Regions from separate parts of the Homo sapiens genome. Here all the other regions are linked to region 5. Evidence: fine-mapped expression QTL. A gene starts in region 5. Each other region holds a variant in brackets. All regions are shown on one strand. Distances are from middle to middle. Region 1 overlaps SBF2 (SET binding factor 2). Region 2 overlaps SBF2 (SET binding factor 2). Region 3 overlaps SBF2 (SET binding factor 2). Region 4 overlaps SBF2 (SET binding factor 2). Region 5 holds the start of SBF2 (SET binding factor 2).

What was found. PIP is the estimated chance that this variant, and not a neighbour inherited with it, causes the effect.
Region 1: its variant is fine-mapped to the expression of SBF2 in thyroid (GTEx, PIP above 0.99).
Region 2: its variant is fine-mapped to the expression of SBF2 in whole blood (TOPMed, PIP above 0.99).
Region 3: its variant is fine-mapped to the expression of SBF2 in whole blood (TOPMed, PIP 0.91).
Region 4: its variant is fine-mapped to the expression of SBF2 in whole blood (INTERVAL, PIP above 0.99).

The regions. Positions count from the first base shown.
Region 1 is chr11:10,262,212-10,268,751 of GRCh38, reverse strand. The region is part of intron 1 of SBF2 (SET binding factor 2); the gene reads left to right. Among named protein-coding and RNA genes, the nearest start is that of SBF2, 29 kb to the left of the region's middle. The variant G/A (reference allele first, on the strand shown) is at 2,802.
Region 2 is chr11:10,252,384-10,258,923 of GRCh38, reverse strand. The region is part of intron 1 of SBF2 (SET binding factor 2); the gene reads left to right. Among named protein-coding and RNA genes, the nearest start is that of SBF2, 39 kb to the left of the region's middle. The variant C/G (reference allele first, on the strand shown) is at 3,413.
Region 3 is chr11:9,855,578-9,862,117 of GRCh38, reverse strand. It overlaps SBF2 (SET binding factor 2), which reads left to right. Exons shown (of 40, transcript NM_030962.4): 18 at 3,722-3,892; 19 at 5,398-5,660. All of the region lies in intron 1 of LOC101928008 (a long non-coding RNA gene), which reads right to left. Among named protein-coding and RNA genes, the nearest start is that of LINC02709, 99 kb to the right of the region's middle. RefSeq lists an enhancer at 6,211-6,310. The variant G/A (reference allele first, on the strand shown) is at 3,827.
Region 4 is chr11:9,968,305-9,974,844 of GRCh38, reverse strand. SBF2 (SET binding factor 2) reads left to right here. Exons shown (of 40, transcript NM_030962.4): 14 at 6,300-6,504. Among named protein-coding and RNA genes, the nearest start is that of LINC02709, 210 kb to the right of the region's middle. The variant T/C (reference allele first, on the strand shown) is at 3,726.
Region 5 is chr11:10,291,218-10,297,757 of GRCh38, reverse strand. It overlaps SBF2 (SET binding factor 2), which reads left to right and starts at 3,539. Exons shown (of 40, transcript NM_030962.4): 1 at 3,539-3,743. The coding sequence starts at 3,689. RefSeq lists silencers at 3,402-3,451, 3,572-3,851, 3,882-3,961, 4,002-4,141.

The DNA of each region.
Region 1 (6,540 bases), 29 kb after region 5:
GGCCCAAATATATCACAGTATGCTATCCGTAGAGAAACTTTTGAAACTGGAAAAAATGTCCTTTCAACAGAGAGACTACTACTTTTTTAGCAGAATGCTTTACACACTGGGAAGTAAACAATTATTTACTGATTGTTTATTGAGTAGACAGTTGAAGGGCTTTTGGTGATTTTCCTAACAGACTGAGTTAGGAGAAAGAATTTGTGTTGTTTCTGGAAAGGGCTATTTTCCACTGATGACACCATTCTATAAATGTCATCTTTTTCGTTGATCCATTGTAGCTTTTTGTGTACTGTATTAATAATTTACAAGGTTCACTAATACCATGATTTGAAGAAAACAAATTGTTTGGGAACTTGACATCTCTCTATTTTTTTTCTTCAAGCAAACATTCTGTCCTTATAGTAATTTAAAATATAGGTTTAAGAACTTAAAATGGAAGATTCTTGTTTAAAGAAAATAAGTGGTTTTGTGGCAAGTTTTTAAGTGGAAAAAAAAATCTGTATAGTTAATGACATCTGCTTGTAGGTAAAACTATGTCCTTTGTTTTTCCTAGCTTAAGTTAATTCTAGTAACATTTACAGAGAGAAATCAAGTGTCAGAACAAACTTGGACAATAATAGTATGAAAATTAATTCACAGTGGAAAGTAGCAGTTGGGACTGGAGTGAATTTTATAAATGCTTCATATACTTGTCCTACGCGGTCTTCTAGGGAATTTGAAAAGAATGTTACTTGTTTTTCTTTGGAGACAGATGTTTTACCAAATCTTAGCGTGAGTAAACCCAAATCCACATGAGATTGGAGTTAATAAAAGTCATTTTTTTAACAGGAGGAAAGAAATGAGAGGAACAACAGAATAAATATTCATTTAAGATAGTGAAACACTGAAGATTTTTGAAAATGTAAATTACTATATTACTAAAAAACCATATTACTCCCTTCTCCCTCACCCCCACCTTAAACTCCCTTTCACTGCTACTGTTCAGATTGTGTGTTTGAGGAATTTGGTTGTAGAAGAATAAAGTCTGGGTGTAGACAGTTTCGGGTTTGTATAGCCATCTGGACCAGGCTGCTTCTAGCTTTGTACTTAGCCACTCAGCTCCATCCCATCTATATTCCAAGTAGGAGTAAGACCCTGTCTCAAAAAAAAAGAAAGAAAAGAAAATGCAGCATGTTCAAGCATATCTGGCTCATTCAAACCTCTTCCCCTTGGCCATTCGCTCAAGTCAGAAACTTGCCACACTCCTTTCTCTCTCACCTTCACTTCAAAGTGTTGTTTTTTTTTCCCTCAAAATTTTCTCACATCTTTTTTTTCCTCTGTTTTCACAGTCACTGCCATAGTTTAGGCCCTTATCAGTTCTTACTCGGATTACTATAAAGTGCACTCTGTTAGGATAGAGGTTTGGCTTCCAGTAATAGGGACTTAAGTGTCTCAAACAATATAGAAACTTATTTCTTTAAAAGTTAAAGTCTGGGTGTAGACAGTTTCGGGTTTGTATAGCCATCTGGACCAGGCTGCTTCTAGCTTTGTACTTAGCATCTCAGCTCCATCCCATCTATATTCCAAGTAGGAGGATGGAGGAAGTAGGGAAGAAGAGATAGCCCCCTTCCCTTTTTAATTTAATTTAATGTAATTTAATTTAATTTAATTTATTTTTGAGATGGAGTCTCACTGTCACCCAGGCTGGAGTGCAGTGGCACGATCTCGGCCCATTGCAACTTCATCCTCCCAGGTTCAAGCGATTCTCCTGCCTCAGCCTTCTAAGTAGCTGGGATTAAAGGCATGTGCCACTACACTTGGCTAATTTTTGTATTATATTTTCGGTAGAGACGGGGTTTTACTGTGGTGGCCAGGCTGGTCTCGAACTCCTGACCTCAAACCATCTGCCAGCCTCGGCTTCCCAAAGTGTTGGGATTACAGGCGTGAGCAACCACGCCCGGACCCTCTTCCGTTTAAAGGCCAAAATCAACTACGTTTCCTTTGGCCAAAACTTATCCTGGGAAATGTGGTCCATATCCCTCATGTTAAAATTGGAGCTTCTGTTATCACCATCATCATCACTGTCATCATCATCATAGCTGTTAGGAAATAACTAATCAAGTGTAGACATCTCTTTATTTCCTTGCTTTCAGTTAAATTCTTCTCTAGCTAGTTCCATATTGCCACCAGAGTAATTTTTTTTTAAAAGGAATGTTTATGTCACTTTGTATTTAATCTTTGAGTAGTTTGCTACTAGCTTCAACTTCATACTCAGAATGTCTCACGGTATCTAAACAGTGTCAGTAGCAGAGGAAATCTGCATTTACCCGTATCTAGCCTGGGTCCTGTTGTCCTGCATGCAGGGATATCCCCTCCCCATAGTGATCAGTGTCTCCTAGTCCTTTACAGTCTCAGTGCTCTGTCCTTGGCCGAGAGGTCTTTAATTGCACAAATAGTGTCCTCTCCTCTGTAATTCTGCAGTGAGGGTCTGTATGAGGTAGCATGGCGATTGACTGGTCACAAGTAGCATTAAGTTCTAGCGTCAAACAACCTGAGTTTGTGCTTAGCCACCTATTGGAATGTGGCTGTGGACAAATCATTTAACTACAGAGCTGAGTTTATCCTCTGTAAATCTGGGATAAAAGTATGAGTAGTAGCTGCCTCATGTGATTGTTATGAGGATTAAATGAACTGATAAGCAAGGTCTTCTGCCTAGCCGAAAAAGTACTAAAAAAAATGGCAGGTTGGGCTGCCAGGCATGATGGCTCATGCCTGTAATCCCAGCACTTTGGGAGACCAAGGTGAGAGGATCACTTGAG[G/A]CTAGAAGTTCAAAACCAGCCTGGGCAACAAAATGAGACCCCCATCTCTAAAACACACACACACATGCGCGCGCGCACACACACACACACACAATTAGCCTGGCCTGGTGGTGTGCACCTGTGATCCCATCTACTTGAGAGGCTGAGGCAGGAGGGAGGAGTGCTTGAGCCTGGGAGGTTGAGGCTGTGGTGAGCCATGATTGCACCACTTGTACTCCAACCTGGGTAACAGAGCGAGACCCTGTCTCAAAAAGAAGGCAGCTATTATTATTTACATAGGTGCATATATGTTCTTCACATAAGTCCATAATATTTAGGCGTGTTTCACAGAATTTAAGCTGCATGTGGTTTTCATTGAGTTCTCTAGATTTTTTATATTGACTGTATGTTTGTATATTCATTGACATATTTTAAAAAGATACCCTGTGTTGATACCCCCCCACCTCTCCCCCCCCCCGATTTCTGCACTTGACTGTGAGCTTTTAAAGATAGAAACTGTTAAATTTACAAGAAAAAAACAACCCCATCAAAAAGTGGGCAAAGGATATGAACAGACACTTCTCAAAAGAAGACATTTATGCAGCCAACATGCATATGAAAAAAATGCTCATCATCACTGGTCATTAGAGAAATGCAAATCAAAACCACAGTGAAATAACCATCTCACACCAGTTAGAATGGCAGTCATTAAAAAGTCAAGAAACAACAGAATGCTGGAGAGGATGCGGAGAAATAGGAATGCTTTTACATTGTTGGTGGGAGGGTGAATTAGTTCAACCATTGTGGAAGACAGAGTGGCAATTCCTCAAGGATCTAGAACTAGAAATACCATTTGACCTAGCAATCCTGTTACTGAGTATGTACCCAAAGGATTATAAATCATTCTGCTGTAAAGACACATGCACACGTATGTTTACTGCGACACTACTCACAATAGCAAAGAATTGGAACCCACCCAGATGTCCATCAATAATAGACTGGATAAAGAAAATGTGGCACATAGACACCATGGAATACTATGCAGCCTTAAAAAAGGTTGGGTTCATGTCCTTTGCAGGGACATGGATGAAGCTGGAAACCATTCTCAGCAAACTATCCTAAGAACAGAAAACCAAACACCACATGTTCTCACTCATAAGTGGAAGTTGAACAATGAGAACACATGGACATAGGGAGGGGAGCATCACACACCAGGGCCTGTCGGGGGGTGGGGGGCTAGGGGAGGGATAGTATTAGGAGAAATACCTAATGTAGGTGACGAGTTGATAGGTGCAGCAAACCATCGTAGCATGTATATAACTATGTAACAAAACTGCACGTTCTGCACATGTACCTCAGAACTTAAAGTATAATAAAAATTTTAAAAATTAACAAAAATAAAAAAATAAATAAAGTAGGAACTGTTTTCTGCTCATTTTTTTTGTAGTACCTGGCAAAATACCTGGCACATGGAAGACCCTTGGTAAATACATATTGAATTAATATTGAATGAGCAATTATACTAAGATGGGATGGCAGCCTAGATGCTATCCTTCTGCTCCCATTTTCTTTTCAAGCATGCATCTCCCTATATAATCTTCCCTAAAAGAATTTTTAGTATACATAGGTGAGATCTTTATTATAACTCTGTCAGTTATTCTCAACATTTTTTCTAATGAGAAGCTGAGCTTTATTTCCCTGAAGTATTGTGAGTATTTGGATTAGAGAAGAAGGTGACCAAGTATCACTGTACCAGTTACTGATAGGAGTGGGAGGAAGATTATGGTTGCTGAGCATTCCTTCCCCATTATAAGGAATACTCAAGAGCTATAAAGAGGGCAGTTTGGCAGTAAAACCATCTTGGAATTTGATGATGTAAAGCTTGAAGATCTCCAAGCTGCCTGCTGTTGACAAATATTCCTTAGTAAGCTTTACCTAAGGCAGAAGCACATTCACATAAGCACCTTGGATTATCTTGTAGTTCTTATTTTTTAATATTAACTTTATAAATCATGAATATTTTTGTAGTTATCAGGTTATTGTTAAGACCTGTTTGGATAATTTTCCTCAGATAATGCTTGAATGATGGGATTTTTGGATATTGTTGTTTTTTCGTTTTTAAGTGGATAATTTGGACTGTTCAAGTGTTTCCTCACCTTTTCCGTAAGGATGTTCAAATGTGTTTAATATATTCCAGAGAGTTTAATTTCAGCCAGGATAAAGTTTTCATTTGATATGGTATATTCTTCTATGTCATTTTTCCGGGTGAATGGAGTTGAGTATTCTCTAATGTAGCCAAAGGCTTCTATTCTTAAGTACAGCAGAGATTTTATACAAACCCTTCACTTTATAAATAAGGAACCTAATGTTTAATTAGGTACTTATTAGTAGTAAGAGTCTCTGACTTATTTAAAGGTCAGAGTTTATTCTAGTAGAAGTTACTGCATGTCTCTTGATACTAGTAATTAACCTATTGTAGCTTGAATTAACCATAGTTATCATTAAGGTTTTAAGAAGACTGTAATTCATTCTCTTGATCATTCATACATGGAAGTCAGGGCAACCCCTCTAAACAGAAAGTAAAGTGTGGTTTCTTCCAGCATTATGTCATTATAATTCACACAAATTAAAAAAAAACTTGAATTTTTACTATATCTGATACTTCCAGCTTCATAATTTTTCTTTGGGGGATAAAAATGTGTAATTATTATTAAAACCATATAAAATATGAATAATGTGCTTATTTTCTTTTGTCTGAAATGTTGATTTATTGTGCTGATTTTTTTTATTTAAAAGGATAACAGAAGATTCTTGAATGATTTATCAATTGGCCTTCAATAGGTATAGAAAGAAGGTATCTATAAGGAGGAGATTTTAAGATTCTAAATGTATATTGTATATAATTTTTTAAAACAGGGAAGTAGTACAATTTCTTTAGGATTAAATGTTGTATTGAACACTGATAAAATATTTATTAATTTTAAAGAATGTCATTACTTGTTAATGCAAGTTTTTTTTTCGTCTTATATGGTAGTAAAATTATAGACTCCCTGAGGATCCTTTTATCCTCAGGTAAAGAATCTGAGACCTCTGGTGTCATAGCTCTTTGCAGAACATTTAGAGAAAGCATCAACCAATTATTTTTGCATAGATGAACTATTAAGTTGAATTCAGCAGGTATAGGATATTTCATTAATCAAGGACTCAAAAAAATCAAGGATACTTGGTTAAAAGTTTTTAGCTTTCAATGTGTGTGTGTAGTGTATGCATATACATCTATGTATTTACATTTTAGTTGACTGACAGTTGTCTTTTGGAAGTTACGGTTTATAAAATAAAATAATTTATACATACATAGAAAGCATAATAAACAGATCACTAAACTCTTTTCTACCCTCGCATCAGAGAGCAGCCCCTAAGAGGCTTATAGTCTATTTTATAAGGATGAGATGTCTGTGGAAAGATAATTATCATATTGCCAGGTGAGTGCTCTAGACAGTAAGACTAGGTTCAGAAGGCTGAGGGTGACAGGAAAGGGCTCATGGAAGTAGTTTATTTTGAGTTGCACTTTGAAGGATTGGATGAGGCTTTTTTTCCTCTACAACATTTGATTATGAAAAATTTCAAATACAACGAAGTTGAAAGAATTTATACCAAACGCCTGTATAGTACTACCTACACTTTGTACAATTAACATTTTATTATACCTGTTTTATCATATATTACTCCATCTGTTGATTCCTATATCATCCACTAATCT
Region 2 (6,540 bases), 39 kb after region 5:
CTGTTCCTTTGCTTATTAGTAGTTTCTTACTCCTTTGTGATTTCCATCTGCTGCCCTATTGTCACTATATGGCTCTTCTGGACCCTCTGCTTTATTGTTTGTTTCCCATTTTTAAAGATATATCTTATTTGCCCAACTAATCTTTTTGAGGCAGACTATGTAGTGAATGGGCTATATTCCTTTGGTGCCTATTCTGTCCAGTTATCTCAGAATGGGAGTAAAGTTACATGATCCAAAACATGGTCACTGGCCCTCAGCGTGGCCATGACATTTTCACCTAGAAGTGGTGTATGGATGAGCAGTAATCATAAGATTTACTGATTAGTAACTGTCCTAGTTTAGTTGAAATTATCAAAGAAAAAGATGGTCATGTGAAATTTTTTTTTTACTAGATAAGCATTTTCTAAGGTGCATTCCACAAAACATGAGTTCCAGGCAATGGCCTGTGAAGAGTGGTAACTTCAGCTAAATAATTATGAGAAACTCTGCTTAATATCTTTACTTATTTACCTCTTGGCTGGGCACAATGGCTTATGCCTGTAAATCCCAGCACTTTGGGAAGCCACAGTGGGAGGTTTGTTTGAGGCTGGGAGCTTCAGACCTGTCTGGGCAACATAGAGAGACCCTACCTTTAAAAAATAAAAATAAAAAATTAGCTAGATGTGGTAGTGCATACCTATAGTCCTAGCTACTCTGGGGGCTGGGGCATGAGGATTGCTTAAGCCCAGGAGTTTGAGGATGCAATGAGGTTTGATCGCACCACTCATTCTAGCCCAGGTGACAGAGGGAGATCCTGTCTCAAAAAAAAAAAAAAGTGTGTGTGTGTGTGTGTGTGTGTGTGTATGTGTGTGTATTTATACCTCTTAGAGATTCATAGTTTGGATTGGCATGTTAAAAATTCTGATATGTCCTACAATATAGAAGTTTGAGCTCTGTTTTAAATTTATTTTTACTTATTTTTATTTTTTTGAGACAGTCTTGCTCTATCACCCAGGCTGGAGTGCACTGGCGCGATCTCGTTTCACTGCAACCTCTGCCTCCTGGGCTCAAGCAGTCCTCCTGCCTCTCCTGGCTAATTTTTCTAGTTTTTATAGAGACAGAGTTTCACCATGTTGCCCAGGTTGGTCTCGTATTCCTGGGCTCAAGTGATCCACCCACCTCGGCCTCCCAAAGTGCTGGGATTATAGGCGTGAGCCACTGTGCCTGACCAAGCTCTTTTTAGTACAGCATTTCTTTTTTTTTTTTTTTTTTTTTTTTTTGAGGCAAGGCCTCACTCTGTCACCCAGGCTGGAGTGCAGTGATGCTATCGTATTTCACTGCAGCCTCTACTTCCTGGGCTCAGGTGATCTTCTCACCTTAGCCTTCTGAGTAGCTGAGAGTGGAGGCACACACAACCATGCCTATTTTTTTAATTTTAATTTTTAGTAGATACAAGGTTTCTACTGATAATAGGTGATCCTGAACTTCTGAGCTCAAGTGGTCCTCCCACTTAGGCCTCTCAAAGTGTTGGGATTGCAGGCGTGAGCCACTGAGCCTGGCCTGTAACATTTCTTATGCCTATTTGGTCATAGAACTTTCTTACTGTATGATATCTCACTGCATAGTGTTTTGGGAATCATTGCATTAGAGCACATTGGAAGATTTTTTTGTGGGGAAAGAGGTAGGATTAGTCAATGCTATAAAATCCTGTTGATGATTGTACTTTGCAGTCATTGACAGTATGGGATAATTGTTAAAAACATGAACTTTGGCATCACAGAGATAGAGTTTGAATTTCAGTTGTGCTATTTATTAGATGTGATCTTGGATAAGAACTTAACCTTTCTGGGCCTGAGTTTGCTAATGCGTGATGTTTCCTGTCAAGTGCTTAGCTCAGTGCCTGACGTGGTGAATAATTAATAAATGGTGATCAGTAAAATTTACCTGTATTTTTACTAGGAAGTGTTTGGATGTACCAGTTAGTACAATCATTCTTCTATAATAAATAATTATCTTTCATCTGAATAGTTTCGTCTAGCATAATTCTTGTGTCAGACTTCGTTATAGGATAAATATGGGATAAATACTGGGTCAAAGGAAAATTTCAATTTAGAGAAAAGATTTTGATGAGAGAGATGCTATTACGTTTTCCAGGTCAGGAGTAGAAATTATGGGGGCTGGTGTGAGATGAGATTGCTGTTTTGGATCTGCTGTGAAAGGAGTATTGTGTATAGGGGTGACAGTATGAGACTATACCCTGGAGAGGGTAGGCCAGATTTTTAAGTCTGAATTTATCTAATGAGGATTTTGGTTTATAATCCAAATGTATATGGGCAAACAGTGCTCTTAGTGGAAGCTACAACCATAGCTCATTTCTGACTAATGCGGCTTCAAGGGCTTGTATCAGTTGTTATGCTTTGTTATGAAGCCATTCTTCTTTGCCACAATTACCTGGACCAGGAACTGGCATCAGTGATATATAGGTAGGCCAGTGGCTTATAGCTTGGCCTGGCCCAGGAACTCTGTCCAATAGCTCTGTAAATGATGAATTAAATCAATCTTATCTTTCTTAGGGAATTTCAATGTGAGATATCAGAGAATGTAGTAAGCAGAAGCTGCAGGACAGTAGAAATCATGTAGTAGAAAGAGAGTAGTTATTGTGGAGAGTAAAATAAAACTACAGTCATAATAGGGGCAGAGTTGGGAAGCTAAATTTTGACAATAATCAACCAGAATTCCTTCCTATTGGGAACCAATTTTATTTTATCCTGGCCAGTGCTGCAGTTGTCAGTGAAGCCTGATTGTGGAGATTTTTCTTATATTTTCATATTCCCCCACATTTTCTTATACTAAATTTTCTTTATGAAGTAGCTCAAATGAGTCTGCATATAGTTTGGCAATTGGAAAGAGCCCATCTCGTGTAATACACCCTGTAAGTAAAGCACAATAATTTACTTAGTTGATGTGAATGGTGTTGACTGATTTGACAGGTGGGAGCAACAGGGACTTTGCTTGTGGCGCTGTTGACCAGGGAAACATGACTAAAGTTGTGCTTCTTTCCTGTTTTGACATAGTTTCCTCAGTAATGGGGTAAAGAGACCTGGTTTTATATCTTTGCCATTCATTAGCTATGTATGATCTTAGGTAACTCTTAATTTTATGGATGACCATTTTCTTTCTATAATTTGAATTAGTCACACTGACTTTTTGATTCAGCAAAAATGCTTTTTTAGGTCATTGTTCATAGTATTTAGAAATGGTCAGAGATAATAAATGTGAAAAAGTTAGAAAAAGAGGAACTATTATGGTCAATCTAAGTAAACATTAAAATATTGATGCAGCTGCACTAGGAAAGCCTAATAGTGTTCAGTGTTGCTCTACCACTTTTGTTTATGTAAAACGAATATCTGGAGGATAATGTATCTTCACAGAA[C/G]TGACAGTAACTTATTTACTTTTGCTACCATGTGTTTCTGTTTTTTCTCCTTTATTTATATTTCAAATATTTATAACCATTTCCCCCAAAGAACTTGACAAACCAGTAGATTTGTTTTTCTTTTGTTTAAAGATTTTTATTTTTAATTGACAAATAAAATTTATGTGTGTTTATCATGTACAACATAATGTTTTGAAATATGTATACATTGAGAAATAGCTAATCTAGCTGAATAACATATACATTAACTTACTGATTTTGTATACTGAGAACACTTAAAATCTACTCTTTTAGTGCTTTTCAAGAATACAGTATATTATTTTTAACTATAGTCCCCATGACATACAATAGTTCTCTTGAACTTTTTCTTTTGGCTAACTGAAGTTTTATGTCCTTTGACCATCTCCTCAATCCTTCTCACCTGCTAGTCCCTGATAACCACCATTCACCCTCTGCTTCTGTGAGTTTCAGTTTTTTAAGATTCCATGTATAAGTGAGATCATTCTCTTCTTGGCTTATTTAATTTAATATCATGTCTTCCAGGTTCATTGATGTTTTTGAAAATAATAGGATTTTTTTTTTTTTTTTTTTTTTTTTTTTTTTTTTTTTTTGAGACAGAGTCTCACTCTGTCACCCAGGCTGGAGTGCAATGGCACAATCTCAGCTCACTGCAACCTCCACCTCTTGGGTTCAAGCTGTTCTGCCTCAGCCTCCTGAGTAGCTGGGACTACAGGCATGCACCACCATGCCCAGCTAACTTTTTTAATATATTTAATAGGGATTTCATCATGCTGGTTAGGCTGGTCTTGAACTCCTGACCTCAAGTGACCCACCCGCCTCAGCCTCCTATAATGCTGGGATTACAGGCGTGAGCCTCGGTGCCCATCCTCTTTTTTTTTTTTTAAAGGCTGAATAGTATTCAATTGTGTATGTATACCACATTTTCTTTATTCATTCATCTGTTGATAGACACTTAAGTTGATTCCATATCTTTGACTACTGTGAATAATGCTGCAATGAACATGTGAGCACATATATCGCTTTGAGATATTGATTCCCTTTTCTTTGGATATATACCTAGTAGTGGGATAGTTGGATCATATAGGTAGTTCTTTTTTTTTTTTTTCTTTTGAGACAGGGTCTCGCTCTGTTGCCCAGGCTGGAGTGCACTGTCACTGCAGTCTCGACCTCCTGAGCTCAAGCAGTCCTACTACCTCAGCCTCTTGAGTAGCTGGGACCACAGTCACACAGCACCATGCCCAGCTAATTTTTAAAATATTGTTATTTTTTGTAGAGCTAGGAGTCTTACTATGTTGCTCAGGCTGGTCTCAAACTCCTGGGCTCAAGTGATCCTCCCTCCTGGGCCTCCCAAAGTGTGGGGATTACAGGCATGAGCCACCATACCTGAGTATTTTTAATTGTTTGAGCAACCTCCGTACTGTTTTCCATAATAACTGTACTAATTTACACTCCTTCCAACAGTGTGTAAGGGTTCCCTTTTCTCTATATCCTCACCAACACTTGCTATTTTTTATCTTTTTGATAATAACTATTTAACAGATGTGAGGTAATATTTCACTGTGGTTTTAATTTGCATTTCCCATACTATTATCGATGTTGAATATTTTTTCATGTATCTTGTGGCCAGATTTATTTTTCACTCAGTGCTTACCTAGGCTTTTTATCTGGGATCAGCGTGATAAGGGGGCAGAAGAACAAAGAAGGCCTTTTTGTTTTTTTTTGGAGATTTGGAGATTCCTAATGTGTGAATTATGGTATTAATAACTGACAAACTAAATTATACTGTGATTCATTATAGTAATATCTCAGGGCAATTGAGATATTAAATTGAAAAATCAGGGCGGTGATTTTTCCTTTATGAGAAAAAGTGCCCCTTTTAGCAAAAAGTAATGCAGACTTCCCAAAAGTAATCATTGTAGTTTTGTATTGGTAGAGTCTGTGATTTAGAGATTCTTTGCCATAATATTCTGTTTCTCCACAGAATCAGGGATATATCCAGGAACAAAAAGAAATTAAGAAAAGCGTTTCCAAGCAGTTAAAATCACTGTCTTAAAGAGTACTAATGTGCAGACAGGGTTTACTTTTGATTTTATATAGTTCTTACGTCTATCTCTTGCATCTCCTCCCAAAAAGAAAAAGACAGGCTTTCAGAAACAAGTTGTGGCTCATTTCTGCTTTCCTTTCTCTCATAACTCTTTTTATTTTCATTATATTATATATGCACATAGTTTAAAAAGTCAGATCTGTAGAAGCATATTATAGAAACTAGTATTCCTTAACACTACGCTCTAATTCCTGCTATCATTTTTCTTTTCTCTAGAGGCAAATTCTGAAACTTCTAAAGCTGATTTTTTTTTTTTTTTTTTTTTTTTGGTATTTACCTCTTGTGTGGAGGTTGCTAGTTGTCTGTCAATATGTTTTTCCCATGTTAAAACTTAAGCTGAATTAAATCTAAAGGAGTTTAATTGAGCAATGAACAGTTTGCTAACTGGGCAGATCCCAGAATCACAGCAGATTCACAGAGACTCCAGTGCAGCCACGTGGTGGAAGAAGATTTATAGACAAAAAATGGGAAATGACATAGAGAAATCGGAAGTGAGGTACAGAACTGCTGGATTGGTTACAGCTCAGTGTTTGCCTTATTTTCTTTTTTTTGATTTTTTTTTTTTTGAGACAGAGTCTCGCATTTTTGCCCAGGCTGGAGTGCAGTGGCGCGATCTCAGCTCGCTGCAAGCTCGCTGCAAGCTCCGCCTCCCAGGTGCACGCCATTCTCCTGCCTCAGCCTCCCAAGTAGCTGGGACTACAGGCGCCTGCCACCATGCCCGGCTAATTTTTTGTATTTTTAGTAGAAACGGGGTTTCACCGTGTTAGTCAGGATGGTCTCGATCTCTTGACCTCGTGATCCGTGATCTGCCCGCCTTGGCCTCCCAAAGTGCTGGGATTACAGGCGTGAGCCACCGCGCCCGGCCAGCGTTTGCCTTATTTGAACACAGTTTTAACACTCAGCAGTCTATGAATGGTTGAAGTATGGCCGATGGGATTGGCCAAGATTTAGCTATTATTACAGACACATACTCCTAAGTTAGGTTTTCAGTCTTGTCTGCATA
Region 3 (6,540 bases), 440 kb after region 5:
TCTGCAGGCACTTATTTTCTCTGTTTACTAAGACTACTGCCACTATCACAGATGCCATAGCCGTTTGTGTCTGTCTTGCCACCAAGTGTTTGTACTATAGTCACTTCACCCTGCTGTAATGCTCACCTAGTAAACAGGCTGTGGGTTCTGACCCTTTGGGCCACTGTCACTCTGTCTTGCACCGTTTTTCTTCCTTGGAACATATATAGTCCCACTTTTGCTCAAACTATTTAGATTAGTTTTTGCATATTCAACTTTTAGTTTGTGCATAAACATGAAGATACAGGTTGAGTATATCTAATTCAAAAATTTGGGCCACACTTGGTGGCCTAATCCTATCCCAGCACTTTGGAAGGCCGAGGTGGGGGGATTGCTTGAGGCCAGGAGTTCAAGACCAGCCTGGGCAACATAGTGAAAACCTGTTTCAAGAAACATTTTTTTTTTTTTTTTTTTTGAGATGGAGTCTCACTCTGTTGCCTAGGCTGGAGTACAGTGGCGCGATCTCAGCTCACTGCAACCTCCACCTCCCAGATTCAAGCAACTCTCCTGCCTCAGTCTCCCAAGTAGCTGGGATTACAGGTGCCTGCCACCACACCCAGCTAATTTTTGTATTTTTAGTAGAGACGGGGTTTCACCATATTGGCCAGGCTGGTCTTGAATTCCCAACCTTCAGTGATCTGCCTGTCTCAGCCTCCCAAAGTGCTTGGATTACAGGCGTGAGCCACTGTGCCTGGCCTCAAAAAACATTTTTTAAAATTAGCCAGGCATGGCAGTACATGCATGTAGTCCTAGCTACTCAGGAGGTTAAGGCGGGAGAATCCCTTAAGCCCAGGAGTTCTAGGCTGCAATGATCTATGATTGTCATCAGCCTGGGTGACAGAGTGAGACCCTGTCTCCAAAAAGAAGAAAGAAAATTCAAAATGCTCCAAAATTCTAAACTTGTAGTGGGCTGGCATGATACTCAGAAGAAATGTTCATTGGAGCATTTCAGATGTCAGATTTTCAGATTTAGAATGCTCAACCAGTAAATATGATGCAGATATTCCAAAATCAGAAACACTTCTGGTCCCAAGTATTTCAGATAAGGGACATTCAACCTGTAATGTCAACTCAAATGTGCCAAGGAAAGCAAATATACACCATCAGTGTGAAAAATACTGAAGAAAGGTGGGGCTTCATTACACCCTCAGATTCCTGTACATCTCTGTTAAGTTTTAATAAAAGATGTTTAATTAATAACTTTTTTGGCATGCTGATTATCCTAAAAGTACTTTGTGAGAATCTGATAAGGATTTGTTAAAAGCTCAGTTTTTTGGAGTTTATCTATATGAATATAATTTCAAGACTTCAACATTTTTAGAGTTGCCATTGATTATGTTATGCTGCATTTGTAAGAAATGGTACTGCCCTGAGTATACTCATGGTAAAGGCAGTTGAGAATTACAGTTTTATCTCATTTGAATTTAGTGCCTTTAAAATCTCTTTCAGGCTGGTCATGGGGGCTCACATCTATAATCCTAGCACTTTGGGAGGCCAAGGCAGGTGGATCACTCGAGCCCAGGAGTTCAAGACCAGCCTGGGAAATATGATGAAACCCCATCTCTACAAAAACCCCATCTCATCTCACTGCAACCTCCACCTCCCAGGTTCAAATTTTTCTACAAAAAAAAGCTACAAAAATTGCTGGGTGTGGTGGAGCACACCTGTAGTCCCAGCTACTACAGCTACTAGGGAGGCTGAGGTGGGAGGATCTTTTGAGCCTGGGAGGTTGAGGCTGCAGTAAGCCATGATCATGCCACTGCACTCCAGCCTGGGTAACAAAGCCAGACCTTGTCTCAAAAAAAAAAAAAAAAAAACTGTTTCAAAATAGGCTTGTGTACTGCTACTGAAACAATTGTTGGTCCTTACAGTAAAGGACTAAAAAATGAAGGAGGAAAAAGTGTGTAATCCATGTCCCAAGTGTCTTCATGCAGAGTATAGAAGGAGCTTGTGATTCAGTGTGTGTGGCTTCTGCTTACGCACTCACAAAACCACACACATTTTGTTCATGATTTCCCATAGGTAGACAGTAACTGTTTCTTAAATGAGCAGATAGGCATAATGAAATCCAACAATGATCCCTGTGCACCCTCAAAGAACTCCTGATTTTTGCTTCATAGCCACAACTTACAGCCACTTAATAGGGAGAATTGAGGTTATAGCCAGTTACCTCAGCAGCAGTAACACAGTCCTATCTTGAAAGGGTCTTACAGATGGCATGTAGTACACAGAGACTCTTTAAGGCAAAATCACAACCACCCAGCTTCTAACTACACAGGTACTACATTTCGTGGTATGCAGTTCTAGACCAAAAAGGAGATTAGCATGTATTGAGCGTGTAATTTTTACCAGATGTCTTATATATCTGGTATACGTCCCTAAGAAATGAACCAACTTTTGTTGTGTAACAGTTATATAACCTTAGTAATCATCTTCAGTGTCCAGCATTTCAGGAGAAGACACTCAGCTTATTAAATTGCTTCGAAAGAAAACTTATCAGAAACTTTAGTTCTACTCACAGAAAACAGATGAACTCAATTCCAAAGAATAAAATGGGCCAAAAAATGTTTATTGAAAATGGTACCTACTCTTTCTTGGAAAATTATGAATTTTTAAAAATTTGAAACATCCTTAGCTTTTAGAGGTGGCAGAAATAGTTTTGGAAAGTTGACTCAAGTCACTAACTGAAATTTGGCAATGTAAATTATCATTAAAATTTAAAATGCAATGTTATACAAGTTTTTTTCAGAGGTTCCAAGGTAGAATATTACTTTGGGAAACAAAATCATAAAGTGAGGGGAAAACAGAAGTGCTAATTGGCAGTTAATTTGGCATTTCATTTATTTTGATTTACTTTCAGTTCTTTTGAAAGACAATTTGGTGTTATAAAAAGAGCAGGGGTTTTGGAACTAAACAAACTTAAATATATATGAAGTGCCTTCTAAATGCCTGCAGAGTTCATTTTCCTTCCCTCTGTTGTTAATCACCTCTTAAGTTTACTCTTACGCTGAAACCCAGCAGGAAGTCCCTGAAAGGAAGGAGGTTTGGTTTGTGTTTATCTTTCCCTGCACAAATTTGGTTACCAGAAAATGCCCTTGAAGCCCAGGGCAGTCTTCTAGAGAGTATGTGAGCCAGGCAACAGCTTTGGCGGGGAGGTAATGGGCTGGAATGAGCAGTAGGAAAAGTGCAGTTCTCCTGAGTCCCTAATTCATGCTATATCCTCATTCTGTGTGTAAGGCCAAGCTGTAGGTTCACTCATATTTCAGTTGCTGTCTCTTTAAAAAGAGTACCCTAAAGCCATAGAAGAAATGTTAAATTATCTGGAGTTTTATGTTTACATCGTGATGGATTTTATTATATGCCCTAATTGTAATAATATTCACTAAACCTACAGTGCCTCCTTTTCCTGTATTTTCTAATTGATATAATAACAGCTTTGATTTTTAGCTGTTACTAAAATACCCATTTTGATAAAGTGACTGAGACTCTCAAGGATCCAACAGCAAGCCCACAGTTGCCAGTTAAAAAGGAGTAAGTTGCTGATTGCTAAGCCTGTACTACCATACGATATTCTTTAGAGAAATCCTTTGATCTCATCTATGATTAACTGTGGCCCCTGTGACCTTATGAACTGTTATAATTCTGCCAGCCCCATGATGATGTATTTTGTGTGTTCTCACAGAAACTTGCCCCTGGAGTCAGCCAGTTTGCTTACACGTGTGTACAAGACCACCCCATTTGGACAAATCAGCAATTTTGGGAGACAACCTTTTACAATGCAGTGCAG[G/A]AACAGGTTCGCTCCCTTTATCTCTCAGCCAAGGAAGACAATCATGCCCCGCATCTGAAGCAAAAGGTAAGAGAGAAGAAAAGAACTCTAATTGTGTGGGATTAGGATTCTGGCTTTAAGGAAAGCAGATGTTCCCAGGGCAAAAAAAACTCTAGCTACTTCCTGCCAGTGTATTTGGGTTTTATTTAGGGAGCCCTGTGATATCTTTCCTCTGTTGATTTCAGACATTATGTTTTTCCATAATAACTTCTTAATACAGTTCTTCAGCACTAGGATTGTTTTAATATACTTTAATAAATAAGAATTTCCTGGAAATGACTATAGGAAGTTGAATAGAAAGAACAAACCTAAAATAACAGGCATACTTCTCTATGCAACTAACTTCCCTGGAGGAATGTCAAATTAAAGTTAATTAACTCCAAAATAAATGTAAAATTTGGTAGTTGTATTAAAAAAATGCCAGTAATAAATCTAGGTCTTCTTCTAGGAATATTCTACATGTTTCTCTATGTTTTATCAGCATAAAATATTTTTATGAAAAATATCAAAAAAATTTAAAAATCAAGAAAATTGTTTTTAATTTGAAAGAGTAGTTTTAAATACTCTGAAAGTTTAAAACATCATTTACTAGCTCTCTGGTTTGGGGCAAGTCATGTTACTTCACTGTGCCTTATATCTTCACTGGTAAAATGGATATGATTATTATGAGATTTTAGTGTCTCATATATAAAGTGCATTGAAGAGTACATGGTATGCAGTAATAATAAGTGTTAGAAACTATCATCCTCATGAATTGAACTTAAAGCAGCCTTAACGGCTGATTATCATTCTACTCCAGAAATTTACTGGGCTTCGGGGGTGCTTTTGATCATTTTTTAAGCAGATGTAATGTTAATATTGACACATCTCGAAAGCATTCATAGAGCAAACACATGTCACTGCTTCTTTGTCAGCCATTCTAAAGAAGTCTATCCCGGAGCCAGCCCTAGGTTAGGTACAAGTGAGACCATAGACATACCAGCTCTTCACAAGCTATAAGGTGCTTTGCTGCTGCTTCCTGAGGTTTGTCACATAGTTCCACTCAAGGCCTGTTGGATCTGGGAAAGAAGACTAGGTTTTGTTTTGTGGTTGTTATGTTATGTTTATGTTTTCATTTTTGCTGATTTAAGCATTTAATAGAATAGTTATTTAAAACATCTATGTTAGGCCGGGCGCGGTTGCTCACGCCTGTAATCCCAGCACTTTGGGAGGCCGAGGCGGGCTGATCACAAGGTCAGGAGATCGAGACCATCCTGGCTAACATGGTGAAACCCCGTCTCTACTAAAAATACAAAAAATTAGCTGGGCGTGGTGGCAGGTGACTGTAGTCCCAGCTACTCGGGAGGCTGAGGCAGGAGAATGGCGTGAACCTGGGAGGCAGAGCTTGCAGTGAGCCAAGATCGTGCCACTGCACTCCAGCCTGGGTGACAGAGCGAGACTCCGTCTCAAAAAAAAAAAAAAAAAAAATCTATGTTTTTTAAGCTCACCTGAAGTGATGGTTCTCTTTTGGATTGTGTTGCTTTATTTTTTAGGATAAGCTTCCTGATGACCATTATCAGGAGAAGACAGCAATGGACCTGGCAGCTGAGCAACTACGCCTTTGGCCTACCCTGAGCAAGTCAACTCAGCAAGAGCTAGTGCAACATGAGGAAAGCACTGTCTTTAGTCAGGCCATTCACTTTGCAAACCTCATGGTGAACCTGCTAGTTCCACTCGACACAAGTAAAAACAAGCTCCTAAGAACATCAGCGCCAGGTGACTGGGAGAGCGGAAGCAACAGCATTGTCACAAACAGGTACCAAAATGTGAACACACAGACCCTCCTCCTACTCTTCTTGGGGCCAGTCTTGGCTTGACAGATAATATTAAACATTTTGAGCAAATACTGCTGTACATATTTCAAAAGTTAACCATTTTTCCTCACCTTTGGACTTGCTCAGCTTTTCTTTCTAAAAGATTCACTTCATCCTACTATTCTTAACCACTTCCCACACTTTCTTCTTTTTTATGACCTAATTTTTCCAAATGTCTCACCCATTACTGATCCAGCCCTTCAGTTACTGTCTGCCAAAGCAATTTACAGAAATCATTCCAAAGAAATTAGTGAGCACCTTCTTGCAAAAGTGGCTGTTTGTTTCTCAGCCCTCCTTTTCCTCAACCTTGTAGTCATACCCTCAACCATGCCTTCCTCTCTACCCTCCAGTAACTTCTCATACCACTGAAACTAAAACCCAGTGTTTACCATGGCCTGCAAGGCCTAACGGAATCCGTCCTCTGGCTACTGCTCTGACCCCCTATTTCCTATCACTCTTCTGTCAACCAAACTGGTCTCCCTGCTCATGCTAATCCTCAGACACTCCAAGCATATTCCTGCCTCACATCCTTTGTACTGGTATTTTCATTCTGGAATATTCTCACCTAAACAGGCCAAGAATCACTTCCTCACTTTATTTAGGTCTCTGCTCAAATGTTACTTGCCTCAAGAAGCCCTCCTGACTTCTGCATCTTAATAATACCTCTCCCTCTCCTACTTTGCATTGTCTTTCATGTCATTTTTTACAACCTGATTTATTTTCATATGTTTGCTTGTTATGTTTCCTTTGTCAGTTTTGTTCATTGCTGTATTCCTAGTGTCTTTGCATATAGTACTCAATAAATATTTGGTTGAACAGATG
Region 4 (6,540 bases), 320 kb after region 5:
GGGATTATAGGCATACACCACCACACCTGGCTAATTTTATATTTTTAGTAGAGGCGGGGTTTCTCCATGTTGATCAGGCTGGTCTCGAACTCCCGTGAGCCACCCGCCTCGGCCTCGCAAAGTGCTGGGATTATAGGCATGAGCTACTGCACCCGGCTGGTTTCTTTCTTTTCTTTTTTTTTTTTTTTTGGGCGGTGTTGGGGGTGTCTTGTTTTAGCCTTTCCAACAGGTATGTGGTGGTATCTCATTGTGATTCTAATTTGTATTTCAGCAGGTGAGTGAGAGTATAGGACTGTTAGCTGGTCACTGTATGTTGCCTTCGTACTTGTGACAAGAGTACTTGTCTTAGAATAGGAAATCTCTATCTGGAGTCATGAATTAGAGCAGTGGTTCTCAACAGGAGCAACCCTCCCACCCTACTTCATGAAATTGGTCTGGAGACATTTTTGGTGGTCACAGTTGGAGGGACTGTGCTACTGTCATCTAGTGGATAAAGGCCAAAGATACTTCTAAACATCTTACAATACACAAGACACCTACTCTTTATCGCAAATAATTATCAAGCCCAAATGTCAATTAGTGCATAGGTTGAGAAACCCTGAATTAGGGCAACCAGCATATCAAATATTAAAGTCATCTACTTGTATTAAGGATAAGACATTCAGTTGAATGTCTCAGTCATCTCACAAGGATGTGATCCTTGAAAGTCCTATGAAGTTGGAAAATTGAGGATGAGTCATTCCATCAATGTCATGTACACTACCAGGCAACTCTAAAGAGTCCAGTTACGTTTTGACAATGTTTAACAATTTACTCCAGTGACAGTATTGCCATCAACTGTATTAGAAAAAAAATTTGTGTCACTTGCTATCCCACATAGCTCTAAGTATAATTTGTGCACGTTAAATAATTTCAAATACTTGAATTAATCTGGGAAACTTGATAAGCTCTAACAATATCATATTGATTTGTCTTTCAGTGCTGAGACCAATACATAGGAAAAATTTTCTTTTTCCCAAGGTGGCTGTTGCCTACTTTGAATTTCCATTGGGGTTTGGGGCTTTTGTTGTGCCTTGCTTTGCTTTTATTTGAAATTAGTTTCAAGCCTTGTATTCTGTAACCCCTAGGCATATTCTCACTTAGCCTACCAAAGCTGGGGGTAGCTGGGCGTGCTGCAGGGGGGAGGGGTGCTGCAGACCAGATGATGTGTGTATATGTCACTTTTTCATGTCTGAGAAAAATCATTCTACCTCGAATTACTAAAGTATACTCTTAAAGCAGGATTATAGAGACCATTCCTTGAAAATCATTATCCAAATTCAAAATGTAAAAGACAGTGCATTCTGCCAAACTCTTTTCAGTAGTTTATTTTGGTTACTTTGGAAAAAAATGTTGCCAGGTTCACTGTAAGTGTTTAGTTGTCTAGCCCTTGTTTATTACTTTATATTTGCATTTCTCTGGAATCAAAGATGAAAATTTGGCTGCTGCTTTGTACTGTCGGAAAATAACGGATTTCCTTATTTCAACAAGGAGATTCAACACAAAATTTGGCTGTAGCTTTTAATGAGCTTGGTGACGTTCAAGGGACCAGTCCAAACACATCTTGTGTTACAAGTAAAAGCAGATGTTTTTAAGTATATGCAGAATACAGTGAGCCCTACCCTAAACTTCCTCTCATTGCTATTGTCTTCTCAAAAGTCATTTCGCGACCAAGTTAGGTTCAAGGTAGCAAATGTGGTCCTTTACATTTATCATGCTGCCCGTTAGAGGGCAGCAGTATACAGACTCAGGAGCCAGAAAACCAAATATTACTGTATTCTGGGGCATAAGTCTTTTTCGAATCTTCTAAACACAGCTAAATATATCATAATTTAACAAAATCCCTAATCTGCATTTTGGTGTAGAATATCTATATAACTACAGATATTCAACTTTGAACTTTGTTTTAACATGATCTTTTTTACAAGCTTGTAAATTAATGCTTGTAATTCTAAATTGTGTATGGATTTGGTTTACAATATTTCTAATTGCTTCTGGGAAGACTCTATTTAAAACTTATTGGAGGGCTGGGCGTGGTGGCTTACGCCTGTAATCCCAGCGCTTTGGGAGGCTGAGGCTGGTGGATCACGAGGTCAGAAGTTTGAGACCAGCCTGAACAACATAGTGAAACCCCGTCTCTACTAAAAATACAAAAGAATTAGCCAGGCGTGGTGGTGCACACCTGTAATCCCAGCTACTTGGGAGGCTGAGGCAGAAGAATCACTTGAACCCGGGAGGCAGAGGTTGCAGCGAGCAGAGATCGCGCCACTGCACCCCAGCCTGGACAACAAAGTGAAACTCTGTCTCAAAAACAAACAAACAAACAAAAAACATATTGGATACTACTACTATAATTACTAAAATGTAAGTAGTTGGTAATGTGTTGGAAATCTTGGGAGAAAGAGATGGCTTTAGTTATAGAAGCATGGTACCATGCCATAGAATATGCAGAGAATAAGAGAATACATATTTTTTAAATGAATGTAGCCAAAATTTTTGGAAAACAGCCTTTAGATTCATTCTGGGGTGGTGTGTGTGTGTGTGTTTGTGTGTTCTAACAGCTTTACTGTAACAGCTCGTTCAATACTCATAAGAACCTTATGAAGTAGGTACTATATTATTATCTTCCTTACAGATGTGAAAACTACAACACATGGGGTAAGTGAATTGACACTGCACCAGGTCACACTACTAGTAAGTGGCCAAGCTAGAGTTTGAAACGAGGCGTTCTGAAATCAGAGATCATGAACTAAAAATACTTTGTTATACTACCTCTCATTGAATTGTCTAACCTTTCCCCCTGAATTGTCATGCCACCTATCTCTATCATATTTTCTCACATAGTCCTGTTTTGGGGCTCTCTATTCTATTCCATTCATCCTTTTAACCCTTCACTAATAACAGTTGTTGTACTGTATTAATTATTAAAGGTTTATGTAAGTTTTGATATCTGGAAATCTTAACTCTCCCACTTAACTCTTCTTCAGAATTTCCTTGACTATTTTTGGTCTTTGTATGTCCCTATGAAGTTTAGGATGAACTTACCAAATTATAGGACCAACTCTTTAGAGATTTTGACTAGAAGTGATATGTGCATCCTTCTTTTTCTTTTTCTTTTTCCTTTCTTGAGACAAGGTCTCACTCTGTCACCCAGGCTGGAGTGTGGTGGTGCAATCACAGCTCACCACAGCCTCCATCTCCCAGGCTTAAACTATCCTCCTCCCTCAGTCCCCTGAGTAGCTGGGACCATGGGCAGGCACCACCATGCCTGGCTAATTTTTTATTTTTTTGTAGAAATGGGGTCTCACTATGTTGCCCAGACTGGTCTTGAACTCCTGGACTAAAGTGATCTGCCCACTCCGAACTCCCAAAGTGCTGAGATTACATAAGCATAAGACACTGTGCCTGGCCAATGCATCCTGCTTTTTCTAAACCACCCCAAGTCATTTTTGGAAAAAGACAGAAGACAGATAATATAACAATAGAGAAAAATATATATATATAACTAGAAAAAATACTGGTGTTACTAAGATTATTTCTACTTTTATTTTTCCAAGTTTTAAATTTTATTATAAATATTTACTTCATGGGAAATATATTTAGAGTTTTAATTTTTATTATAAAGAAAATATAGATAGAAACCAAAGTAATGAATATACTTTAAATAATTCAGACCTCAAGATCCA[T/C]ATGAATTACCTGGCCAGCCTGAAAAAAAAGATACCTACCCAATATGTTTTAGAGAATTGATATTTATTATTTTTGGGAAGACAGTATATGAGTAAGAGTCATGCCTAAAGAACAGAGAAGAACAAAAACACTACTTTTTGAAAAGGGCAGTTTTAGACACTACAGGCCAGTGACATTGGTGTTAAGTCCAGACAGAATTGTAAAACACTTTTTCAACATTTGGTTTAGAAAGAGTGATTACTAAGAGTTGGACTAAGGATTTACTTACTTATTTTTCCCTGTCTTTGCTAGATATGGGGGGAAATACAGAGCATGTATGAGAGCTGCTTTGGCAAGAACAGATTTTAAATCTGATTTCACCTTCTGAGGAGCCTTATATAAGATAAGCTTAATTATATAACTTAGGCAAAGTTGTTTTCCCTGCATCACATAATAAGGACTAGAGCAAGAACTGGAACCCATGTGTTTTGACACTTACGGCAGTGGGAGGAAGCAGTGTGTTTCTATTATATTGCTGAGGCATACTAGCTATATCATCTGCCTTAGCCCAACATTTTCTTTATCTAGGTCTGGGCCATATAACCAAAAAGAATTGTGGGGAGCAGCCCTAAGAAGTGATGGCAGTTGGCCATTTTAAGTGTCAAGAGGATGTATGGGAGGCTGAGGCGGGTGGATCACGAGGTCAGGAAATCAAGACCGTCCTGGCTAACACAGTGAAACCCTGTCTCTACTAAAAATACAAAAAATTAGCCGGGCGTGGTGGTGGGCCCTGTTGTCCCAGCTCCTCGGGAGACTGAGGCAGGAGAATGGTGTGAACCCGGGAGGTGGAGCTTGCAGTGAGCCGAGATCACGCCACTGCCCTCCAGCCTGGGCGACAGAGCAAGACTGCGTCTAAAAAAAAAAAAAAATAGGATATATGGGATAGTATTGAGTTTAATCTACAGCATGAATAACATAAGTTCAGTGGGAATAAGGAATTTTCTGGTCGCAAAGAATAAGTGTTAGAATTGGTCAAGAATAGTTGTAAAGCAGCCTTCCCTAGAGAACTTTATGAAAGAATGGATTCCATTCTACCTGGAGTGTTTGAGATCTAATCCTGCTTAACTAGATGACTAAAAAGTTCATGCCAACCCAAAGAGTCTACAAAAATATTAGCTGACACATTTAATTCAATTCTTGCAATCCTTATGTGTGTTCAGCATTGTGTCCCCCTCATTAAGATGCAGTGGGAAGAGCTTTAGAGTGCCTGCTGTGTGCCAGGCAGTTTCTAGATGCAGTAGGTATACGTCTACTCTCATGGAGCTTTATTTTATGGAGAGAAGGATAGACAATAAACAAGTTAAATAAAATGTAAAGTATGTGAGAGAGTGATAAGTGATATAGAGAAAAATATAACAGGGATAGGGAGTGTGTTGGGGAAGAGAGTATAATTTAAGATAAGGTGATTGGGAAAGGTGGCTTTTGAGCTAAGAAATGCAAGAAAGGAAGGAGGATGCTGTACAGATTCATGGGGCACAGGCATTCCAGGCAGAGAGAACAGTTAAGTGCAAAGGCTTTGAGTCAGGAACAAGAAGTTCTGTGTGTCTAGAGCAGAAAAAAATGAAAGAAATCATGGCAGGACACATCATATAGAAAGGCCAGATCTTGTAGGGTGTTGTAAGTTGTTTTAAGAACTTTGGGTTTTATTGTGAGTGAGATGACAAGCCATTGGAATGAACAGAACGGTTATGTGATGAACTGACATACTCTTAACTAGATCACATAGTCTGCAGTGTTGAATGAAGGAGTACAGGTGGAAGCAGGGAGACTAGGAGACTGTTGTATTGCTGTAACGTGAGGTGTTGACTTGAACCAAAGTGTTGTGAAACTGGCCAAGTTGTAAACATTTTAAAGGTCAAGTCCACAAGATCTGCAGAGGAATGGATAGTTGGGTGTTAGAGAATGGCATTAAAGATAACTCTAAGCTTTTTGTCTAAATGATTGGAAAAAATAAATGTGCCATTTACTGATGTGAGGAAGACTGAAGAAAGCAGGGATAGAGGTGGGTGAAGATTAAGAGCTGCATTCTGGACATAGGTTTAGAATTTTTTAAAAAATCCAAGTGAAAATATTGTATAGAGAGTTAAACATGTGGGTATGGGGTTTAGGAGAAAACTTGTTTAAAGAAAAAAACTTGTGAATTGTTGGTATTTTTATGGTTTAAAGATAGGAGACTGGAAGTGATCACCAAGGAATGAATGTTAATAGAAAAAAGACCCAAGGACTGAGCCCTGAGATATTCACATTGTTAAGGGATTAGGGAGATGAGAAATAGACAAAGATGTAGCAAGAAGACCTAGAAACCAAGTAAAGAAAGTGTTCATGGAAGAGGAAGACAGATGCCAAGCTGTATCAGATGCTGCTGATAGAGCATGTAAGAAGAAGTAAGATTTTGGTACTTCATGTTTTATGGCGTATATATGAATGTATGTATAACTACCCAGCTCGTGTCCCTGTAAGCTCCCACTCCCTTCCTGGTGATCTGCCATTGTTATTTTAACTTGGAGTAATTTTACCTATGTCTGATATTACAGGAGAATCCAAATCCTCATATGGCATTCCAGAAAGTTCCACGGCCAACAGAAGGATCCCATTTGCGAGTTCATATTCTTCCTTTCCCAGAGATTAATGAAGCCCGGGTTCAGGAATTAATACAGGAAAATGTTGCTAAGAACCAGAATGCACCTCCTGCCACACGAATAGAAAAGAAATGTGTTGTGCCAGCAGGTCCACCTGTTGGTATGTATTTGTCTGTCTGTTTTAAAAGTAAACTGT
Region 5 (6,540 bases):
GTGACAAAATGGGCATTTGCAAATGGACTGGAAGTCTACTTATGACAGTAACAGATGAAATATGCCTAAAAGCAGAATAGCATTTGATTCTAGGCTTAAAAACAATAAACTTTGATTTTAAAAAATTAAAATAATTTAAATGAGTACTTGCAAATGAAATAAAAGCCAAGACATTTAAAAGGTAAAACAAGACCCCTTACCACTACAAAATTAACTCAAAATGGGTCAAAGTACTAAAGAGCTAAAACTATGAAGGAAACCAGTAAATCTTCATCTCACCTTTAATATGGCAATAATTTTTTAGATATAACACTAAAAGCATAGAAACAAACTAAAAAAGTGGACTTTATCAAAATTAAAAACTTTTTTGAGCCAAAGGACATTATCAAGAAAATGAAGTCTGGGTGTGGAAGCTCATGCCTCTAATCCTAGTACCTTGGGAGGGCTAGGTGGGAGGATTGCCTGAGGACAGGAGGTTAAGACCAGCCTGGGCAACATCATGATACAACATCTCTACATAAAAATAAAATGAAAAATAAAATAAAAATAGGAAATATTTGGGGGGGGGAATAGGGCATAACAATTTTAAAAAGAAAATGAAAAGACAACGTACAGAATGGGAAAATATCTGCAAATCATATATCTGACAAGGACTAGTATCCAGAATATATAAAGAACTCTTACAACTCAACCTCAAAAAGACAAAGAATCAATTAAAAAATGGGCAAAGGACTTGAATAGACATTTCTCCAAAGAAGATTTAGCAATGGCCAATAAACACATGAAAAGATCCTCAACATCATTAGTCTTTAGGGAAAGGCAAAACAGGACCACAATGAGATATCACTTCACACTAAGATAGCTATAACAAAACATAAACAACAGGAAAACAAGAGTTGACAAAGATGCAGAGAAATCAGAACCCTAGTGCATTGCTGGTGAAAATGTAAAATGATGCAGCCACTGTGGAAAACAGTAGTAACAGAACTACTTAATCCAGTAATTCCAATCCCAAGAATATATCCCCAAAATTGAAAACAGGTACTCAAATACATGTACATGCATGTTTGAAGCAGCACTATTCACAATGCCAAAAGGTGGAAACAACCCATATGTCCATATGGGTTGTTCCAGATAAACAAAATATGGTATATACATATGATATGGTTTGGCTGTGTCCTCACCCAAATTTCATCTTGAATTGTACCCCATAATTCCCACCTGTCATGGGAGGGATCCGGTGGAAGGTAATTGAATCATGGGGGCGGGTCTTTCTCCTGCTGTTGTGGTGATAGTGAATAAGTTTTATGAGATTTGATGGTATAAAGGAGAGTTCTGCATAAGCTCTCTTGTCTGCCGCTTTGCTCTCCTTGCCTTCCGCCATGTGGAACTGTGAGTCAATTAAACCTCTTCTCTTTATAAATTACCTAGTCTCGGGTATGTCTTTATTAGCACCGTGAGAACAGTCTAACACAATATACAATGGAATATTATTGAGTCATAAAAAATAATGAAGTATTGATACTTCAATGTGATGCTACAACCTTGTACTGTATCTGCCCGTAAACAAGCTGAGAACAATATACTAAGTGAGAAAAACCAAGACACAAAAAACCCACATATTGTATGATATGAATATGAAATATTCATAATAGGTAAATCCATAGAGACAGAAAGCAAAATGGTGATTGCCAGGGGCTGTGGGAGGGGAGAATGAGAATGACTGCTTAATGGTTGTGAGGTTTTCTTTTGGGTGATGAAAATGTTTTGTAACTAGATAGACATGGTAGTTGTACAGCATTGGGAATGTACTTAATTGCCACTGAATTCTACATTTTCAAGTGGCTAATTTTACAATATGTGAATTTTGCCCTATTTTTAGAAAAGTTGGGAAGGAATATGATAGCTGCCTTAAAAATCTATCATATGAAGATAGATTTTTTTTTTCTGGATAGTTCCGGAGAGCAGAATCAGGGGAAGTTACAGTAAGACAACTCTGAAATAATAAGGAAGAACTTTCTAACAATAGGGCTGTTAAACAGTGGAATGCGCTGCCTCCCAAGGAAGTAAGATTACTTTTTACTGAAAGTGATCAAGTTGGATGATGAGCTCTCAGGGAAGTTACAGAGAGGATTGCTGCACGGGGTATGACTGAGGTTTTTTTTTTTTTGGTTTAATTATTTTCAGGATCAAACTATCTTCCCTCCACGTTTGCAAATTCAGCTGATTCAGTTTTACCATTAGCAACTGACATAGAGGTCCTGGAGTTAAAGTATTCCTTCAGTTTCAGTTCTAGTGCAGCCCAACCCTCCCAATTTGTAGATGAAACAAGTGTGGCAGAGAAAGGGGAAATAGTAAATTACAGCAGAGTAAATCTTCAGGAGCTGAGATGTCAACTCTCTCAGTTCAGAGTTGGAGCCATTGCGGCTTCCTGCTGGTCGTTGGGGAAAATCGCACATTTACTCATTTAAAATATTTTGTAGGCACCTACTATATACTAGACGCTTTGCTAAGAGGCCTTGTCTTATGTGTAAATATGAAGGATCAAACCCTCAATTAATAGTGAGCAGTGATAAGCAACCACAAAGACAACTTCTAAACCACGGAGATTTCCAAAACTTTGGTCTACCACTTGTACAAATTCTACTAAAACTTCGTGAGATATTAACAAATGACAAAGTGAGTTCACCTGAATGTCACACCAGCCAAATTCGAAATGGTCAATAGGAGGTTCAACAAAAAAGCAAGCGACTTTGATAATCCCGAGACGGAAGGACGGGACCATCTATTCATTTTTGTGCATGTTTGAGCAGGGAAGTTGGAAGTCCACCTGCTCGGGCTGCGAGAGCCCTGGGACCGCTGCGAGGGAAGCAAGCCGAGGCGTGCGGGGCTCCCCAGGGAGAGGCCAGCCCAGTTCGGGAGGATCCCGGGGATGCCGCGTTCCTCGGTGGAATCTGGCTCTCCCGGGCGCTCCGGGGGAAGCCCAGGCCGACCGCCCCCGGCCCACCCGGCATTGAAACCCGAGGCTCCTTGGAGGATTGCGTAAAAGCCTCTCCCTCCCCCGTCTGCTCGGTGGCATGTTTCTAAAATTCCCATCTACACAACATAAACAGGAAACGTGCAGCAAAAGCCCTGTCGATGCAAATTCCTTGCTTCCAACCGAGGGCGGGAGAATTTCATCTTTGGTGGTGGTGGGGAGCAGAGGAAGCAGCCAGCTTTCCAAGTGACCCCTCAACTCTCCACATCCCTTCTTCCAAATCCAAACAGAATAGAGAAGGCGGAAGGAAGGACCCCCTGCTTTAGGAAAAATAGGGAGGCAGAGGGGGCCGTGAAGCAGCATCCAGGCCTCAAAGTGAACCACCTCCAGGGGCCGCGGTGGCGGCGCGTGGCGGGAACACGCCCGACCGCCCACTCCCCCAGCGCAGCAGTCCGCGAGGCCCGCGGAGGGTGGAGGTGGGCTCGCCGCCCGGGCTTGGGGCAGCCGAGCCAGCGCGGGTGGGGGCGGGGGAGGAGCGGGCACTAGGCGCCGCGCAAGCGCAGAGCGCGCCTCGGTTGTCAAACATGGCTGAAGCGCTGCCGCTGCCGCTACTGCCGCTGCAGGGAAAATGCTGAGCCCTCCCGGGCCGGGTGGGCGGCGGCGGCGAGGGCGGCGACGGGGACCCGCTTCCCGAGCGCGGCGGCGGCGGCCATGGCCCGGCTGGCTGACTACTTCATCGTGGTAGGCTATGACCACGAGAAGCCAGGTAAGGGTGTGGGGCGGCACCGCCCCCGGGCCTCCCCGCCCCCCGGCCGCTGTCCAGTGGGCTCCGCGGGGCCGGGCGTCGGGGACGGGCGTCGGGGAGGGCCAGGCCGAGTCTCGGAGGAGCGGGCGGTCGGCGTCCGGCCTTCTCGGCTGGGCTGAGCCTGGCGGTGGGCGTGGGGGGGCCGGCACGACGGTAGGGGGAGGGAAGACGCCGCGTCTGCCCAGCCCCTGGGCGCACCCGCTGGGCGGGCCGGAGGCGAGTTGGGGTCTCGCGACCCTCCCGCTGGAGGCTGCAGGGTACCCGGGGCAGAGAGAGCCCTGAGATTGGGCCCAGGACCGCAAGGCTGGGAGGGCGGGAGCCAACTGTGCTAAGTTCCTCGGGGATAAACTTCTGCCCTGCATCCTGAGTGAGTAACCAGTGACGCAGGGGGTTGTCCTCTCCGAAAGGAAGTGCTGAGAGTCCAGTGCTAACTCACCCCTGTGCTGTTGGGGGCCTAGTGACCTCCCCAAGGAACGCGTGGTACCAGGGAAGGGGACAGGATTCTTTGCACTTTTACCCCTTTCTAGGAAATGCTCCCTATTCTTTCAGGACAAATGTGACGGTCACTTCACAGTGACATGACTTGTCTTTTAACTAAGGACAGCCAGCTGACCGCTGAAGGTGATCTTGTTTCACTTTAATGTGTTTTCATTGTTCTTTTTATTTGTCACAGAATTTTCGTCGTAAGGAACAATTGGGCAAATGCATTGTATTTTACACTTTAATTGACGGACTTCCACAACTTAAGAGAATTCAGGGTTCATGCACGTTTATTTCTGTATTTGTATTCTCTTGTATTACTATGTAGCTAAGCATAATGTAATAACAAATTGAGCTGGGAAACCACTTCTATTTTAGGGCAATTCTAGTCCCACATTTGCAAGGAATTTGAGATATCAGCTCTACAGCCCCTTCATTTTTCAGAGATGCTGAGATTGTGTTTTCCTGATGGTTACAGCCATTGGTAGCTCAGAATACCATTGTTCTACCCACTCTTGGTCCACTCTCTCTTTCATTATTCCTCTCCTAAGAACTTCCTCTCCTTTAGTGGGAACCTTTCATGTTCTTTTCTCTTTCACCAGTCATGACCTGATTGAGGTCAATTGTTAAAGAGAAAGTTTAAATGTTTAAACTTCTGGATCCAAAATTTTATTTCCTAGTAATTTGGCATAGTCTGATGTTTCTTTTCTATCAAGATTAAGTGTGGGAAATCAGTTTTTTAACCTTTAGTTTTTAGTGACATTGTTCCGCCTCCCCCCCTCCCCACTTTTAAACAATTTTTTTTTTTTTTTTTTTTGAGACGGAGTTTTGCTCTGTTGCCCACGCTGGAGTGCAGTGGTGCGATCTTGGCTCACTGCAACCTCTGTCTCCCGGGTTGAAGCAATTCTCTGCCTCAGCCTCCGGAGTAGCTGGGATTTACAGGCGCCCGCCAACACGCCCGCTAATTTTTGTATTTGTAGTAGAGACGGGATTTCACCATCCTGGCCAGGCTGGTCTTGAACTCCTGATCTCGTGATCCACCGGCCTCGGCCTCCCAAAGTGCTGGGATTACAGGCTTGAGCCACCACGCCCGGCCAACAATGTTGAAACAATAACAGACTTGCAAAAAAGTTGCAAGAATGGTACAAAAAATTCTACCCGCCCCCCAACAATTTGAGAGGAAGCTGTTGACCTGATGCCCTGTCATCCCAGAATACTTTAATGTGCATTTTCTGCAAACAAGAATGTTCTCCTACATGATCACAGTGTAATAACCAAAACAGGAAATGGATAGTGATACAGTACTCCATCTAGTTCTCAGACTGGTTCAAGTTTTGTTGATTGTGCTAGTAATCTCTTTACTGGCAAAAGGATCCAGTTTAGCAATATGTGTTGCATTCATGTTATGTCTCTTTTGTCTCCCTCAATCTGGAACATTTCCTTTATCTTCTCCTGACTTTCATGACCTTAACATATTTAACAATTACAGGTCAGTCACTTTGTAGGCTGCCCCCTCAATTTGGGATTGTCTGTTCCTTCATGATTAGATACATACGAATATGCACGTGGGAAGGATATCACAGAAGTGATGCTCACTGCATCCTGTCAGGTGGTGCACAATTTCACTTTGTTTCATTGTTGGTTATTTTTACTTTGATTACTTGATATAAGTAATATCTGCGAGGCTTCTCCACTGTAAAGTTAATACTTAATTGTTTTTGCCATGTACTTTGAAACTATGTAAATATCTTGTTCCTCACTAAACTCTTAATCATTTATTGACATCTACATGGAGTCTGTGTGTGTGTGTGTGTGTGTGTGTGTGTGTGTGTGTGTGTTTAGTGGATTATATTCTGTTACTATTTGCCTTAGTCTATTCGGAAAAAGTCACTAGCCCACCTGCCCGAAGCACTGGCTTGAGTGGGAAATAGGAGAGTCTAAGCACATCCAGCCGAAGTGAGACCAGAAAGGGGAGCTCGCGGATTATATTCTGTTACTATTTGCCTTAGTCCATTCGGGCTGTTATAACAAAAATACCTCAAACTGGGTGGCTTATAAACAATAGAAATTTATTTTTCACAGTCTGGAGGCAGAGAAATCCAAGATGAAGACTCTGACAGATTCAGTGTCTGGTGAGGACATGCTTCCTCATAGCCATGTTCTCACTTTAACCTCATATGGCTTAAGGGTCAAATGAGCTCTCTGGGGTCTCTTTAAAAAGGGAACTAATCCCATTCACAAGGACTCCACCACCATGACCTGATCACTTCCTAAAGGC